2 separate regions of the Homo sapiens genome follow, and region 2 is linked to region 1. Evidence: fine-mapped expression QTL. Tissue or cell type: whole blood. Region 1 holds a variant in brackets; the other region holds the start of a gene. All regions are shown on one strand. Distances are from middle to middle.

The links. PIP is the estimated chance that this variant, and not a neighbour inherited with it, causes the effect.
Region 2: it holds the start of RAB2A, and the variant in region 1 is fine-mapped to the expression of RAB2A in whole blood (TOPMed, PIP above 0.99).

Annotation. Positions count from the first base shown.
Region 1 is chr8:60,609,084-60,617,148 of GRCh38, reverse strand. All of the region lies in intron 6 of RAB2A (RAB2A, member RAS oncogene family), which reads right to left. Among named protein-coding and RNA genes, the nearest start is that of CHD7, 66 kb to the left of the region's middle. The variant C/T (reference allele first, on the strand shown) is at 3,928.
Region 2 is chr8:60,513,336-60,521,400 of GRCh38, reverse strand. It overlaps RAB2A (RAB2A, member RAS oncogene family), which reads right to left and starts at 4,414. Exons shown (of 8, transcript NM_002865.3): 1 at 4,148-4,414. The coding sequence starts at 4,193. It overlaps LOC124901949 (a long non-coding RNA gene), which reads right to left. Exons shown (of 3, transcript XR_007060922.1): 3 at 4,603-7,709. RefSeq lists enhancers at 2,981-3,170, 4,406-5,266 and a silencer at 3,961-4,830.

The sequences.
Region 1 (8,065 bases):
ACTCTGAATAGGTTCTAAACTATCAGATTTGACAGATCACAGATAACAGTACCAATCAATAAAGTCCTCTTCAATTAGCATTCTATAAAAATTCATAAAAGAAAGCTATACTCCATTACCACTGATACAGACCTAATTTAAAGTTTAAAAAGTAAACAGCATTCATGGAGAGGAACAAATCATACCTTTTATCTTTTCTACACTGGAAACATTTGACTGCTGAACTTGCCATCAGAGCTTTTGTTTCCTAATTAACAGGACTGATATGTTTTCACCTTTAAAGGCCTTACAGCTCCCCAGAGTAATCAATCTACTGCAGCTCAATTACTGCACCAAGCACACACCAGTCAGTGAAGGAGATCTGAACGTCTGCGGCAGGAGCACAGAGATATGAATATGCATAAACTCTAAGTGGCTGATCGAATCATCACAGAGGGTCATGAGAATTTGCAGCAAAATAATGAGAAGAATTAATCACTGCAGATTCACAAGGCACTTAGGACGCGAGTGCGCTTTTCATGTATGTGCTAGAGCTAAACTGAAGAGGGAACTGGCTTTCAGCCAAGTATGAATTGATTCACATTCTTCAAAATTGAGGTTATCCCTATAAATAAGGAAAAACTTAACTTTATTTCCAATAACATGTCAATTACTGTGATGGCTTTAGAAATCAAGCTACCTAATATTGAAGTCAACAGATACATAAATTCACAGGGCTGGAAGTGCTTCCAAGAGCATCCACATGTGCACATTTCACTAGAATGTTACATAGAACTACAAGGCCCCATAAGTGAGTTATAACTTCATACAAACAAGCACTTTTATACTACAAAAGTTATTATTAAATGTGTCAATTTGCATAAAAATTGCCTTTTTGCCCGTCTGGTAATAAATCACTTTAAAAACAGGCTTAAGAAAGTGATGCTACATAAAATTAAGTAAGTCACTACTAATTTTATTACCTAAATAGTACTGAATACTTTATTAAGCACTTTTAAACATAGTTGTACCAGATGAATTAAGGATGTACATACAGTATTTTTTTATCTGAAAGGCATGCAATTAACTCCATTACAACTGAAATATAACAAATAATCTTTGGATAATGCTACATTACTTGGTCGTTCAATCTCTGATTACACATTACAGACAATAAAATCAAGTATTTTCTACCCCCTGAGCATATTATAGAGGATACAATACAAACGGGTTGTTTTACATACTTCATGACAAACATTAATATTTAATATATATTACTAAGTGATTAATGACTAATTTTAATGAGTCCTTTGCGTTTGAAACCCAGCATGACAAATGTAGACATTAATATACTTGTTTTAAAAGTATGTGGCTATTTGCAATAACACTAGGCTTTGCACACACACACAAACAATAAAATATGTGGCCATGGACTTTGAAATTGCTGAGTTCCTAAATATAATGAACATTAACCAAATACTAGTAAGGCTTATGAGAGGTCAAATAAAAGTTCTAAGGTAAGAGCCTTGGGTGTCACAGATAAAATCTCCTCCACTTAAGATGCAAAACATTTCCAAAAAGATGAGAAATATGTATGTATATAACACATTGGCTGGGATTTTAAAAAATTGATCATTTCACTCTATTCATTAAATATCAATCCCATATATAAACTTTTTAAGGTATAGATGTTTCTAATCCATCTTTAGACCACTGCATTCCATATATATATAATGTACAAAAATACATTTTAAGTATTGGTTGGTAAATATCTCAAGGCAGTACTAATGTTCTTCACAGAATTAGTTTAATTTGAATGGTTAAGCTATTCTCTTAAAAATACCTTATCTATAGATGTTAAACATATTGTAGTTTTGAATCTCTAGCACAATACCTAAAATAGCATAGGTACTTAAACCGCCTTTGTTAAACTCAATTACCCTTAGCAAGGAAATACCTACAGGGTAAGGTGGGCTTACATGAAATTGCTGGTTTCTTTTTGCTTATGTACATCTCTTTAGGGGCAAGCTCTTTTAAGACTTCATTAAGGGACAAGCAGTAGGCAAAACTAATAGGTTTTAGAATAGGAAAAAATATTTGTTAACAAACTGATGTCAAATGATTTCATTTGTTTCAATGATTTCACTGTTTGCACCATGAAACAAGCAATGTCTAGGCAGATCCACGATTATGAAGTATAAACAGATTTCTCTGCAGCCAACTGAATTTGGTGGTCCTCCTGCTTCCCCATGTGGCCGGTGCTCTGTTGCAGTAAAAGAAGCCTGCCTCTCTCATTTTACCACTAGCCTTTCCTTTCCCCCAGACTTTAACTGCCACATTCAGTCCTTTACCTTCCTTTTCTTCCTTAGCCATTCATTCTCTTGCTTTCCACCTCAAACACTAATCTTTCAGTGTTTGGCAGCAGTTAATCTGAATGATACTGATAATACCTAAACTTAAGGCAAAATTTCAGGGACTTCGATTGCACAGTTGAAACAACCGTAACCACAAAAGACTATAAATATGTTCTAATTCAAATAAACATTCAGTAAATACACACGCTAATGTGGATCTTACATATCACTGACATTTACCCAAGGGCACCTGTTAAAACTATTGTCACTGGCCAGGCTCGCACCTGTAATCCCAGCACTCTGAAAGAGGCGTAGGCAGGAAGACTGCTTGAGGTCAGGAGTTTGAGACCAGCCTGGGCAATGTAGTAAGACCCCTGTCTCTATTAAGAAAAAAATCGTTGCCACATATTCAGAACTTCTGTAGGTACCATGGAAGACACAAAGATGAGGAGGACTATTGTTGCTGAACAATAGGAACTATTTAGGTAGGAATAAAATCATTTAGTTGGCAGAATCTAAGCCCAATGGCTCAAATCTCCATAAAGATGGAAGAAAAAAACTTTCTGCACTAACCGATAGAAGAATGCAGGGCTGGATTAAGGCAGGTCTCACGGATATTGTGCTAACAGGGTCTTTAAAATAGACTGGAGAGAATGCAGGCAAAGGGAAACATGAGATACTATTTTATTTTTTATTATGGTTGGGCAGTTTTTAAGGCAAAATATTGAAAATAAATGATCTTCAATAGAATATTTAAATTACTTCCTTACATAACATGCTGCCACCTGGTGGCATGATAAAAATTAGGTAAGACCAGTATTTTGGACAGTTTAAATATCTTGAACAGATGCTACAGAGCAGGGTATCTTGTAAACAAGCGACTTTTAGTTTTCTCTTAGAACTGAGAAATATGAGGTAGCTAAAATGTGGCTTTTCTTCTCAACTGCTAAAAGTCAATGCTATGAACATTACAGTTATCCATTTGCCTAAGTTAATAATAATCAATATATACTAAGTATTTACTATGGGACAGTCACTATACTGATTTACAAAGGTTTTCACTATTTCTTAAAAGAAATTCTAAGTATGTAAACAAATAAGAAAATTAATGTTAACTTTATTTTGCTTTCAAGAAAATCTGTATTTGTGGGATGAAGTTAGACCTTTAAAATGAACAGAATTACTGAGGGCTCTAGAACCAGGCTCTCCAGGATCAAACCCCAGTACCACTTCTTACCAGCTGTGTTGCTCTGGAACCAGTGCTTAGCCTCTCTGTAAAATGAGGATGATAACGTGGGAAATATGTGCTTTTTTAATGTTCAATTATAACTGCAACATACAAAACAAATGAAAATTCCTTTGACTTGTATTAAAGATAAATGATCCTAATAAAGGAAAGATAAATGTAGCCCACTTCATAGGATTGCTAGGAAGGTTAATGTAAAGCACTGAAAACCGTGCTTGACATGTAGTAAGCACCCAATAGGTGTGTCAGCTGTTGGCATGAACGTCTGGATGCAAAGACACATGGGGAACAACAGGAGAAGGGAGTACTGGTGCTAAATGTGTATGTGCCCTGCAGACACTCCAAAGT[C/T]AAGGAGAGAAATGGTGATCAATGCTCTATAGTCAATTCATATATCTTGATTAAATAGAGCTAAACCTTAAAAAAGTGAATTGGCAACATATAATGTGCACAATGAGCCCCCCAAAATAAAATATATTTAATAAGACTTAGATATTGGGCAAAGATAGGAGAGTCCTGTGAAAAGCACAGCAGACTAGAATTTCATATTAGGGAGTTTAAGAAACTTCTTCAAATTCTGTGATTCTATCTGATTTCGGGTCAGTGAAGAAAAACTCGTATATCATCCAATAGTGGCTTTTAAACTGTATTTCAAGGCAATTCTGCAGGGGCCACCTTTTGGAATGAGATGGAGTAGGGACAGCCCTGTGGAGGGAGAACCTCTGCCTCTTCCCCGCCTCTTTCTATAGCATCACCAGTTCCAAAGTAGAGCTGTTGTGGTGTTACTTCTCTCATACAGTTTCTCTGTGTTTCACTAGAAGGAAAAGGGCCATTGCTAAATCTACAATCTATAATTTTCTCATTTTGTAGATATGACTGAGCTGCAAAAGGAGAAACGACTTGCCCAAGACCACACATAATTACAGCAGACGCAGGATTAGAATCTAATAGTCTTCTCACTACATATATCTTTCCTTTATTAGGATCAGCTATCTTTAATACAAGTCAAAGGAATTTTCATTTGTTTTATGTTGCAGTTAAAAATGAACATAAAAAGCATATACTTCCTACATCCTTTAAAACCCTTTTAGCTAGAAATTATATTGGATTTCTAGGATTATTTTTGGAAGTATATAAAATTTGTATTATTTACATCTTTTGTCTCTTTCCTACCCTTTACAAAAATTAGTATCACCAGTATCAATGCTAATTAAAGGAAAGTAGGGAGCCTAAACACATCTTAATTTTAGCAGGAAACTGAAGAGGGGAAGAAACTAGAACTATTTGATTAGAAAGGTTTGGGGAATATGGCATTTAAGAATTTCCTGTTCCTAGAAAACCAAACACTGCATATTCTCACTCATAAGTGGGAGTTGAACAATAAGAACACATGGACACAGGGAGGGGAACATCACACACTGGGACCTGTAGGGAGGTTGGGGAAAAGGGGAGGGAGAGCATTAGGACAAATACCTAATGCATGTGGGGCTTAAAACCTAGATGACAGGTTGATAGGTGCAGCAAACCACTATGGCACATGTATACCTATGGAACAAACCTGTATGTTCAGCACATGTATCCCAGAACTTAAAAAAAAATAGTTGTTTATTTTAGGGTTTGTTGCTGCAGCATAACATAGCAACAGCTGCGCAATGCAGATTAATAATTGGTTTTCTATGTAAACTTAATAGTTTTAAAAATCATAAATATTGCAGCATTTTACTCTTCAGTACTGAGTATACTGAACCAATGACTGACGTTTTGTAATTCAAGTGGATTTAAACTTAGCTCATAAAGAAAAATTTTACTCCAAGTTATTCTTAGAATGCTTATTTATATTCAAAAGTAAATATTAAAATGTTTTCAATTAAAAAAAGAATTTCCTGTTCCTACTTTCTGTCAGAGGTAACACAAAAATGTTTAATTCCTTAGCAATTTAGTTCTTCCATTTAATAAGCATTTCCTGAGTGCTTGATTTGTACCAGGCACTGAGGACACTCAGATAAATATGAATACCTTACATCTCAAGGATGTGGTATATAGGATAGATATGCATCCAATATGCGAACATAGAAGAAAAACCTTCAGTTGCTTAGATGAATAAGGTAGCATGACCACTTCTGAGAGAGAAAAGCCCTGCAAGTGAAGGCCTGAAAGACAGGTAAGCTCCCACTCATATATTAGGAAAACTGAGGGGAAGAAGGGCATTCTGGACAGAGGAGCAGATTTTAAGTTCAATTCTGTTGGAAGCTGAGGACGGCCAGGAACGTGAGATAAAGTTAGAGATGTGGCCCTATAGGCAGAGGAACCCTGAAAAGGTAGGAAGCAGGGGAGGGACAAAATCAGAGGAGAGTTTAGAGAATGAATCACAAGGGGGCGATACTGGCCACAGGGAGACTGAGGAGTCCAGAGCAATGACCCAAGAAAGAAAGGTCAGATGGTGGCAACGAGAATGAATGGCAAAGCTCAAACCTAATATCTGTTGTGAAGAAATTAACAGGACTTTAAGTGACAGAGTAAAATGGTGATATGTTTATGGATGACTCCGCTTTTGGTTTAAGTGATGAGATAAAAGGGTATACCATGAATTGAGATAAATTAAAAAGGAAGAAAATCAGTTTTCAAGGAAGGAATGAAAAATTTCTTTTAGACACGTGGAATTCTAATACATCGTACAAGTGGGAAACTCTTGGTAGATGGCGATCTATATAATTGTGCACTTATATGGGAATATAAGCTACAGATAAATGTGAGTGTGTAAGTATATGACATGCATTTATTAGCATAATTTTCTTGGGTAATGTTTAGCCACCCTGGTTTAGAAGTACAGAAAATGGATGCAACTTTCAAAGTCAGAGTTTGGATCATCTATGAAGTTCCGGGGATGATGGCCAAATTAGAGGTGAAGAAGCTGATGCTAGTCAGCCAAGTCTACCAAAATGTGGAGGAGAGTGGTAAATATTTATTAAACTAAGCTATCCTCAAGGGATACTGGAAAACTGCTGAGGAAGGCCAGGTCAGATTTCCACTGAAGTCTTGTGGTATGCATCCATGGGCTTAACACTCAGAATAGATTTAAGGGGGAAACAAAGCCTTCAGTTTACAACCTCATTACAGCTACATAAAAATACTCATTCCACCAGTTACAACAAAGCCCAAGACAAGATGGTCCCTCAATGCAAATAAAGTCTACAGACTTTCAAGTACTGAGACAGAATGCAGGTATTAGCAAGGGGACTTGAAACTGGTAGTCTTCCTAGTTACTAATGTCTTAGTAAGTCATGTGTTCTCTCTGGACATAGAAATTCATCTATCCTGTCAGTTTAGGTGGCTTGGTGGGTTACTGCAATCTGTCTTAGGGTTAGCTGGTTGTATTTTCAGCTATAGTCTTGGTGGTATCTAGTACTTCAGTAGCATAAATACTTCAGCAGCATAAGCATAAGGCTTCTGGGAAGGGTGGGGGTTTACCTAGCCTGCCATTATGACATGAACATCTCTCCACCTAAAAAGGCCTTTTCAAACCACAAAGATTCCAGGCAGCTACTGAAGGAAGAAGCACCTGATGAGAGGCCAATTTGCTTGTCTGGATTTTTTTTTTTTTTTTTTTTTTTTGAGACACAGGGTCTCCCTTTGTTGCCCCGGCTGGAGTGCAGTGGCATGATCTCAGCTCACTGAAGCCTTGCCCTCCTGAGCTCAAGTGATCCTCCTACCTCATAGCTGGGAGTACAGCAGGCGTGTCCCACCATGCCTGGCTAATTTTTTATTTTTTTGTAGAGATGAGGTTTTGCCATGCGGGCCAGGCTGGTCTCAAACTCCTGGCCTCAAGTGATCTGCCCACCTTGGCCTCCCTAAGTGTTGGGAGTATAGGTGTGAGCTACCATACCCAGCCTCACCTGGATTTTCTAAAATCTCATGTTTTAAAATGCTTGGGCAAAGATAAGGTTTAGGACAGAATTCTACCTACATGTAACAAATGGGACCAAAGCATAACCAGAATGAAAGACTGAAGGAAGAAGAACATGGTTGAAGCAAATACATACTTACTCATCCAAACTTTTGTTATCTACCATGTGGGGGTTGCAGAAATGAAAAGAGTCTGTGTCTTTAAAGAACTCAATCCTTTTGGTGGGCCGACATGACAAACAAGTGCAATGATATCATACTAAGGTGAATTCATGCCCAGGACAACACAGGAATAAGGAGAAGAAGAAGTCTATCAATTCAGATGTTGTGTGTGGTGGCTGGTGGCAGAAGGAAGACATGCTGGTGTCATGGAACACATTCCAGAGGAGGGATCAGACTTAACCATACCCTTGGAGGATCAAGTCGGAAGGAAGGGCATTTCAAGTGCAGAGAATACTTTTTTGTGGAGAAGGGGAGAGAACACTGTAAAGCTGATCGACTCCTAGTTTACTATGGAGAGCATATGGTGTGAGGGGTTGGCAATCAAAGCATCCTGCATGCCAAGCTAAGGAGTTTGATGCTGAAG
Region 2 (8,065 bases), 96 kb after region 1:
GGTAATAGGGACTCCATTTTATGTTATTAGCTCCCAAGTCTCTATCCCAGATTACTCTCTCCTGAGCCAGAAATAAACTTTCAACTACATACCAGACATTCCCCCATGCCCACTCTGGCGGTGCCTACTCATCATTCTAATTTCAGCTGAAACATCACCTAGTGCCTCCCCTCAAGGATCCATCCACTTAACTATTAAATAAATCTGACACTCAATGGTGTACCCTGGCATCTAAGACAAAGGCAAAGACCTTCCTAACTAAAAAGATAATTTAAAATGCAAGTGGGGCTGAGAGCTGTGGCTTGTGCTTGTAATCTGGCACTTTGGGAGGCTGAAGTGGGAGGATGGCTTAAGCCCAGGAGTTTGAGACCAGCCTGAGCAACACAGTGAGAGCCCATCTCTACAAAAATTTAAAAATTAGCCAGGCATGGTGGCATGTGCCTGTGTTCCCAGCTACTTGGAAGACTTAGGTGGGAGGATTGCTTAGGCCCAGGAGACTGAAGCTGTAGTGAGTGAGCCGTGATAGTGCCACTGCACTCCTGCCTGGGCAACAGAGATCATGTCTCAATAGATAGATAAATAATATAAGTAAAATAAAATAAAATGGAAGTGGTGGGTATATACATAAGAGTGAAAAATAAAAAATAAAATGTAAGTGGGACTGGGACTGAAGAGAAGGGAAACAGAATGAGGGAAGAGAGGAGGGGACCAGCATAAAATGCAACAGGGAGTGGTAGGATTTGTTAAACTCTCAAAAGAATGGATAAAAAGGAGTTGGCCAGGTGACAAAAATTTTTGACATAACTTTTTTTGATAGGGAAGAACAAGAAGGAGTGCTTCAGATATTAGCAGAAATAAGAACACAACCAAACCTGTGCCTTTGTTTACCTTGCTGAGCGTTGAGCAGCAGGGAGGGTTAGTGATAAGGTTAAAATGGTTGGCAGATGCTAGAATTTCAGAAGAAAAATTACTATAGATTCGTATTTTTTCTCTCCATGCTTGATAATTAACTGCTTATTAAAAACCACTTTCCACTTTACATCTAGATTTAAATGACACATTTTACTAAATGATTCAGAAACAAGACAGGAACAAGGAAAAAATTTAAAGCTACATTTTAACTGCATTTAGTCTTACAGTAAGAAAACAGCTCAATAGTATCATCATGATCATGTAAAAGTTTTTAAAACCTCTTCTATTAAAGAGGGAATTCTGAAAAGGAAAAATGTGCATTGTTCCTTTCCTTTGAGAAATCAAAGTACTTTCACATTTATCCTCATTTTATCCCACATACTGAGAGAAGGTTATAGGTTACGGAAACAGGGAAACAGAAAAATTAGGTGATTTCCTTCATTCTAAGATGCATGTTTTTGACCCTGACTTTTTAAAAAATCAAAGTGGATCTCACATTACTGATTTTAAAGTCATCTTTTCTAGGGGAGGGCCACACTGAGTGTATCTTACAACTATGGGTACACTCTGCATTAAAGAAATATGGTAAAGGATTTTGCCCAAATTAGTAAGCAAGAAGGTGGCAGAACTGGGCAACAACAACAACAACAACGACACCACTTCTGTTAAGTTATTAATATATACAAACAGGAATATAGTAGCCTGTTTGGCTCCTCTCTTATTAGTTAAATATACAGGGCCTACCTTCTACTACGCTCTTCCTGAAAGAAATACAGAGCCATACAAAACATCTTTTCTGACTTCAAGAAGTATATAATAGGTACCTACATAATAGAGGTGCCTATACAAGTATCTATACAACAGAAAAGTCTGGGATCAATATCAGAAGAATGACACAAAGTGAGAAACATAAATTCAGAAACGGAGTAGTCACTTTCAGCCAGGATACTGTGAAAATCTTCACACAATAAGAGCTTAATATATGTTGACTGTGAAGGCATTACGGAAAACTCAGATAAGACTTTGAAGGACTGATGGATCTTCCACAGGGAGAGATTGTGCCGGAAAGCACTCTAAGAATAGAGACTAGCAGTGCCCAGGAAAAAAACACCAAAATCAGTCACTGGGACTCAATGGCAGAAGCAAGGTGGGGAATAGCGGGAAAGAAGGCGAGAAATGTAGATAGGGGCTAAAATATAGAGTTCACTGAAGGTCAAACTAAAAATTGTGAGCAAACAGGAGTAGCCTTTTGACATTCATGCTTCAGGATGACTAAACTGACAGTAAACTACACTGGCTGAACTGGAGTAGGGAGAAGTACTGCTGCAGACTATAACAGTGTCAAGAATTCTGTTCCTGAACTAGGTCGTATCAGCAGCAATGACAAGAAAGAAGTGTCTTCCCTTTGAATTGCGTGGGGACTGCTTTTGGATAAGAGCAAATTCCAAGAGAACAGAGCATTAACTTGTTAGGATTTGTAGCCCCACTACTCCATGCACAATACTTTATTTATCCACAGTACAGCCTCAAATAAAAAACTGAAAAAAGGCAACCAGCAAAGTCTGATTTGAATTTTCACCACTAATGAGATAGCCAAATGCCACAGTCACAAGCTTCTATTTCTCAAACCCACTCATATTACAGTTAATGTGGCATTCCTCTCCAATCTTGTTTTTACAGCCTAAATGAAATTTTGCCAGAAGACTTTAGAATTCTCCTTCTTCCAAATACACCACAGCATTTTTCTTTTAAAGTTTACAAATCCAATTTCCACACACACACACACGCACGCACGCATCAGAAAACCTTGCTGAAAACTCATGTATCTAGCAGAAATTTTTTCTTTCAGGCAGCAATAAATATGCTTTTTTTTTTTTTTTTTTTTTTTTTTTGCAAACTCCACCTTCCGGGCTCAAGTGATCCTCCCGCCTCAGCCTCCCAAGTGGCTGGGATTACAGGCGCCTGCCACGACGCCCGGCTAACTTTTGTACTTTTAGTAGAGACGGGGTTTCACCACGTTGGCCAAGCAGGTCTCGAACTCCTGATCTCAGGTGATCCCCCACCTCGGCCTCCGAAAGTGCTGGGATTACAGGTGTGAGCCACCGCGTCCGGCCAACATGCTTCTTTAGTTACTTATAGAACCTGCCACATCATTAGTTCAACTACAAACTGCTGCTTACATGACCGAAGTTGTGCAAAGGGTCCAAAGTTGTGCAAGAGTAACCACTGAAATCAGACTCTGGTATATTAATAGTTGCAACATCTAAACAATCTTTATGTTTATTATTAGATTCAAAGTAATGCCAAATCACAGGTATTAAAAATATCTACGAAGAGTCTGTTTACTTTTCTGTGAAATATACTAGGACGTCATTTTAAGTGAGAATAACTGAATTTCTTTCAGCTCATGGACATGAGCTCACCTGAAAATTAGCAGTTGTGACACCGGACTTGACATATCTAAAACATCAGCGTCCTCAACATACACATACCTAAGTACACACCCAGAGCACTGAACGACTTTACATTACTATATAACCCCAGTTCACACGTGGCAAAAGTCCACAGAACTCGTTCATGCTTTCCTAACCCCGAAAGGGATTCTCCAGCCGTCAAGTAATGAGATGTGACTTATTCTGACGTGAGAGTTGAAGGTGTTAAAAAAGCATATTTTATATATATGTATATATATAAAATACATATTTTAAAGGTTTCCTTTTCTCTTTCTCGGCTGCCTGTCCCACGCCAAAAAGCGCCTTGCCCAGGCCTTGATAGATGCGTGCTGGTGGAGGAAGGTTGGACTGGTCAGGAACCAAGACCCGGGCCCCAACACCTTCTGCTCCCCTAGGTTTCCCTCCTTCTTTTTCCTGGGGCCGCGAAGAGACCTAACGCAAGGGGCCCTGGGGGTGGGGTGCAGTCATGTGAGTCGGGCCCCGGCGGCCCTGCGCTAGGCCTCCCCTCCTGTCACACACTTCCTGAATCGGGCGTCGCAAACGGCTGCCACGGCCCTCAGCTGCAAGACTGGCCGGGTCGGGGGCCGCAGACCGGGCCTGGCCAGGCCGCGGCCGCTCGCAGTGCCCACGTCACCAGCTCCAGCACTGCGGAAATGGAGCGGCGCGGCCAGGAGGGAGGCGCCGGGTGGAGTCCGCGTCCCCGCCACCGCCAGACGCCGTTTGCCCCTCAGCCCGGGTCCGGAGGCCGCCGACACCCGCCCGGCCGCGCCCGGGGCCCTCACCTGTGTCGCCGATTATGATGTACTTGAAGAGATAGGCGTACGCCATGGCCGCGGCCGCTCAGTGCCAGGGCACACGGCTCCTCCTCCCGCTGCTGCTCCTCCTCCGCGCCCCAACCCCGGTGCCGCTCAGCCTCGAAACGCCAGGCGCCGCCCGCCGCCGCCGCTGCTGCTGTCAGCCGCCGGGAGTGAGGGGCTGTGAGGAAGCCGGACGAACTGACACCCGCAGAGCCGAGGGAGACAGCGCCCGACCGAGCCCAGCCGAACAATAACAGCCGCCGCGGCGCCTCCGCCCCGCCTCCGCGCCGACCCGGAAGTTCTGCGGCCGCCGGCGCCGCCGGAGGAAAGGGGAGGAGCCCCGCACGCTGGCCCAGCCCTGCACGCTGGCCGCGCCCCGCCAGCCGGAGCCCCGCCCCGCCCCGCCCCGCGCCTGCCTTGCCCGGTCCGCCCTGTCTTCCAGCAGGGCGGGGCCCGGCTCCGGTTGTTCCGCCACGTTTGAGCGGGCGAGCCCGGCGGCCGGGAGACGCCAGGGAACGGGGCTGGTGGGGGTACAAAGGCTCGGTTCCGTCGCCTTCAGCCCTGCGGTGGGGGCACGGGGCAAGTGAGGGGACGGCAGAGGCGGCGTTCGGTGTGAGGCTGCGCCCTGGGCTCCTGAAAATGTGTGTGAAAATGTGGGAGGCACACGGCGAGGGGGTGGGGGTGGCCTGGTATTTCTGTGTTTGGCATCGGGGCTTGAAGGTGAAAATGGCAGTATTTATAAATTGGAAACCGTAAATCTGGGACTGCAAAGTAAATCATGGTATGCACGCACAGTGGAGTACTACGTTGCTCTCACCTGAGGTCAGGAGTTCGAGACCAGCCTGGCCAACATGGCGAAACCGCGTCTCTACTAAAAATACATTAGCCGGGCGTGGTGGTGCTCGCCTGTAATCCCAGCTACTCGGAGTCTAAGGCAGGAGAATCACTTGAACCTGGGAGGTGGAGGTTGTAGTGAGCCGAGATTGAACCACGGCACTCCAGACTGGGCGACAGAGCGGGACTCCGTCTCAAAATAATAATAGTAAATAAAAAATAAATAAAGTCTCTGAACCTGTCCTGGTTCTGAGGGCTGCTCTAAAAAAAAAAAAAAAAAAAAAGCCTGACTTAGGTTAAGCAAAACCGAGATGATCTGTTTATGTGTGTGTATATAACATGCACCATATGTAATATATGAATTGTATATAATTTTTATGTGTAACAAATAGTGGGAAAACATTTACATACCCATATATGCATAATCAATCTGAAAGGAAAGCTAACTGGTATTAAGAGAAAGGAGGGAATGGGATTGGGGGGAAAATGTACTTTTCCCTGAATTTTTTTGTGCAGTTTGACATTTTTTGCAGTGTTCATGAGTTACCTATTAGGAAATACTGTTAAAGGAAAAAACAAAATGACTGTGCATTCAAAGAATAGTTATTGAATACTATGTTTCATGTACCGCCAGGCACAGCAACTGGAGGCCCTGTATGTTCTATGTTCTGTTTTTCTACTTTGCTTTTTCAGTCATCCAGCCCAAAATGTCACCACTCTGTTCAAAAAGACCACAGGTTATGGAAGAGGAGGTGGAGAATAGGGTGTCAGGAAAGGTTACTTAGAGATTATGATTTCTGAGCCAGGAATATGAATTATGTATAGAGTTTGTCGAAAGAACAACAGTTTGGGGAGGGGAACCAAAGTTTATGGACAAGGAACAGAATGTGCAAAATTCCTGGATCTGTTCAGGGAATTTGAAGTTGCATAAGGAAGCTAATTGACTAACTCATATCCTCATAACCCATAACCTCATATTGAAGGAGAATCATTGCTGGGGAAAAGCGATTGGGATTTAGTGGCCCTCGTTCCTGTTGCCTAATACTCTTCTCTTTGGGGCCTCTCATTATGTAATTAGTACTGACACCATCATGCTGGGTTGCTAACATGCTTTGGATGGCCTTGCCAAATATGAACTCACAAGGTTTTTCTGGAATATTTGGAGGGGATTTTACTAAAGGGTCAGAGATGGCACGGAAGAATTTGACATGAAAATTTGACATGAAAAGCTACCTGGAATCGCAAAATTTGGTTCATTCACCTTTAGTTTGAGGAAGGGGAGGTCCCTGCCCAAGGCCTCCAGTTTTCAGATGTCATTTTGTCCCTCCCACTTGAGTGCCTTCACCCAAGTCTTCCTTGGTGATGGAGAAACTCAAGTCTTCACTCTCACAAGATAGAGGGATGTGGCCTTCCTTCACCAGCACAACTCTATTAGGATGTTATACAAATGCCTGGCATCCTAGGAGTCAGGAGTATTCCTACACTGTTAGAGGAGGAGAGTACCTGGAGAGGTCTCTTGTGCCAGGTTATGTAGGGCCTTGTATGTTATGTCACCATGCATTTAGAACTTTACTTAGTAGACAAAGGAAATTGTGACAGGAAATGGTCAGAACTGGGTATGTAACAAAAATCATAGAAATGGATATAAAGCTATAGAGGCAATGTGTTATAAGGAAAATAGGATACCTGGCTTCTGGTCTTGGCTCTACCTGTAACTGATCGGATGAATGTGAGGAATCGTTTGGCCTCTTAAAGCTTCAGAGCACAGGTTGCGATGGCTTGTGCCTGCGGTCCCAGCTACTTGGGAGGCTGAAGAGGGAGGATAGCTTGAGCCAAGCAGTTTGAGGCAGCAGTGAGCTAGGATGGTGCGACTGCACTCCAGCTTGGGCTATAGATTGAGACCTTGTGTCTTAATAAATAAAATAATTATTAAAATAAAAATAATTTAAAAAATTATGAGTGGTTCAGTGCACTTGTCTATTAAGTAAAGGAGTTAAGTGTTTCTTAAAAGGGCTATTCCAAGCATGACGTCTTTTAATTTTATGCTTAGCCAGCCTCCAAATCTAAAGCCATCTGTAAAGAAGGTAGTAATCCTCTCGTGAAAATGCAGGGGCCATAGATGTCAAATGCATATTGTTCTGATTGATTGATTGATTGATTGAGAGGAGGTCTTGCTCTGTCATCTAGGCTGGAGTACAGTGACCCAGTCATGGCTTACTGCTGTCTTGACTTCCTGGGCTCAGGTGATTGTCCTGCCTCAGCCTCCTGAGTAGCTGGGATCACAGGCACATGCCACCACGCCTATATCATTTATTATTATTATTATTATTTGGAGAGATGGAGACTCCCTCTGTTACTCAGGCTGGTCTTGAACTACTGGCCTCAAGCAATTCTCCCACCTTGAAGAACAGGATTTTCAAGTTCTTCTCTGGGCTTCAGTTTCCTTATTTGGAATATGTGGATAATAACTGCTTAACAAAGTCCATTTAGGATCAAATGAGATAATGTATGTGAAAATACTGTGTAAATTATGAAAAATGTATACCTAATACATAAAACTCTTTGCACTGCATAATTTTTGGAAATTACTTGAGGGGCTGAGTGCGGTGGCTCATGCATGTAATTCCAACACTTTGGGAGGCAAAGTCTGGAGGATCCCTTGAGCCTTGGAGTTCAAGAAGATCAGCATGGGTTACATGGTGAGATCCTGTCTCTACAGAAAATTAAAAAGAAAAAAAAGAAATTAACTTGAGGAACTAAAGGCCTAATCACTATATAAATTCATGGTTTAAAATTAAGTTTGTTCCTGGCTCTATTTTATGTCTCTACCTTTTTTCCTATGTATGATTCATAATATTTTGTTATATTTTCTATAAACCTATAATCTCTTAAATCTTCGAAAAAATACAGGGTATAAATAAAAATCACATAAACCTCATTTAAAACATTTTCTTTAGCCCATAAAAATCCAAACATATTTTTCAAGAAAAGTCCCCCAGACAAAATAACAGAAATAAACCTCTCTTCCATTAAATATAGTATACTTCCTGGAATTTTCCATTCAGTTTG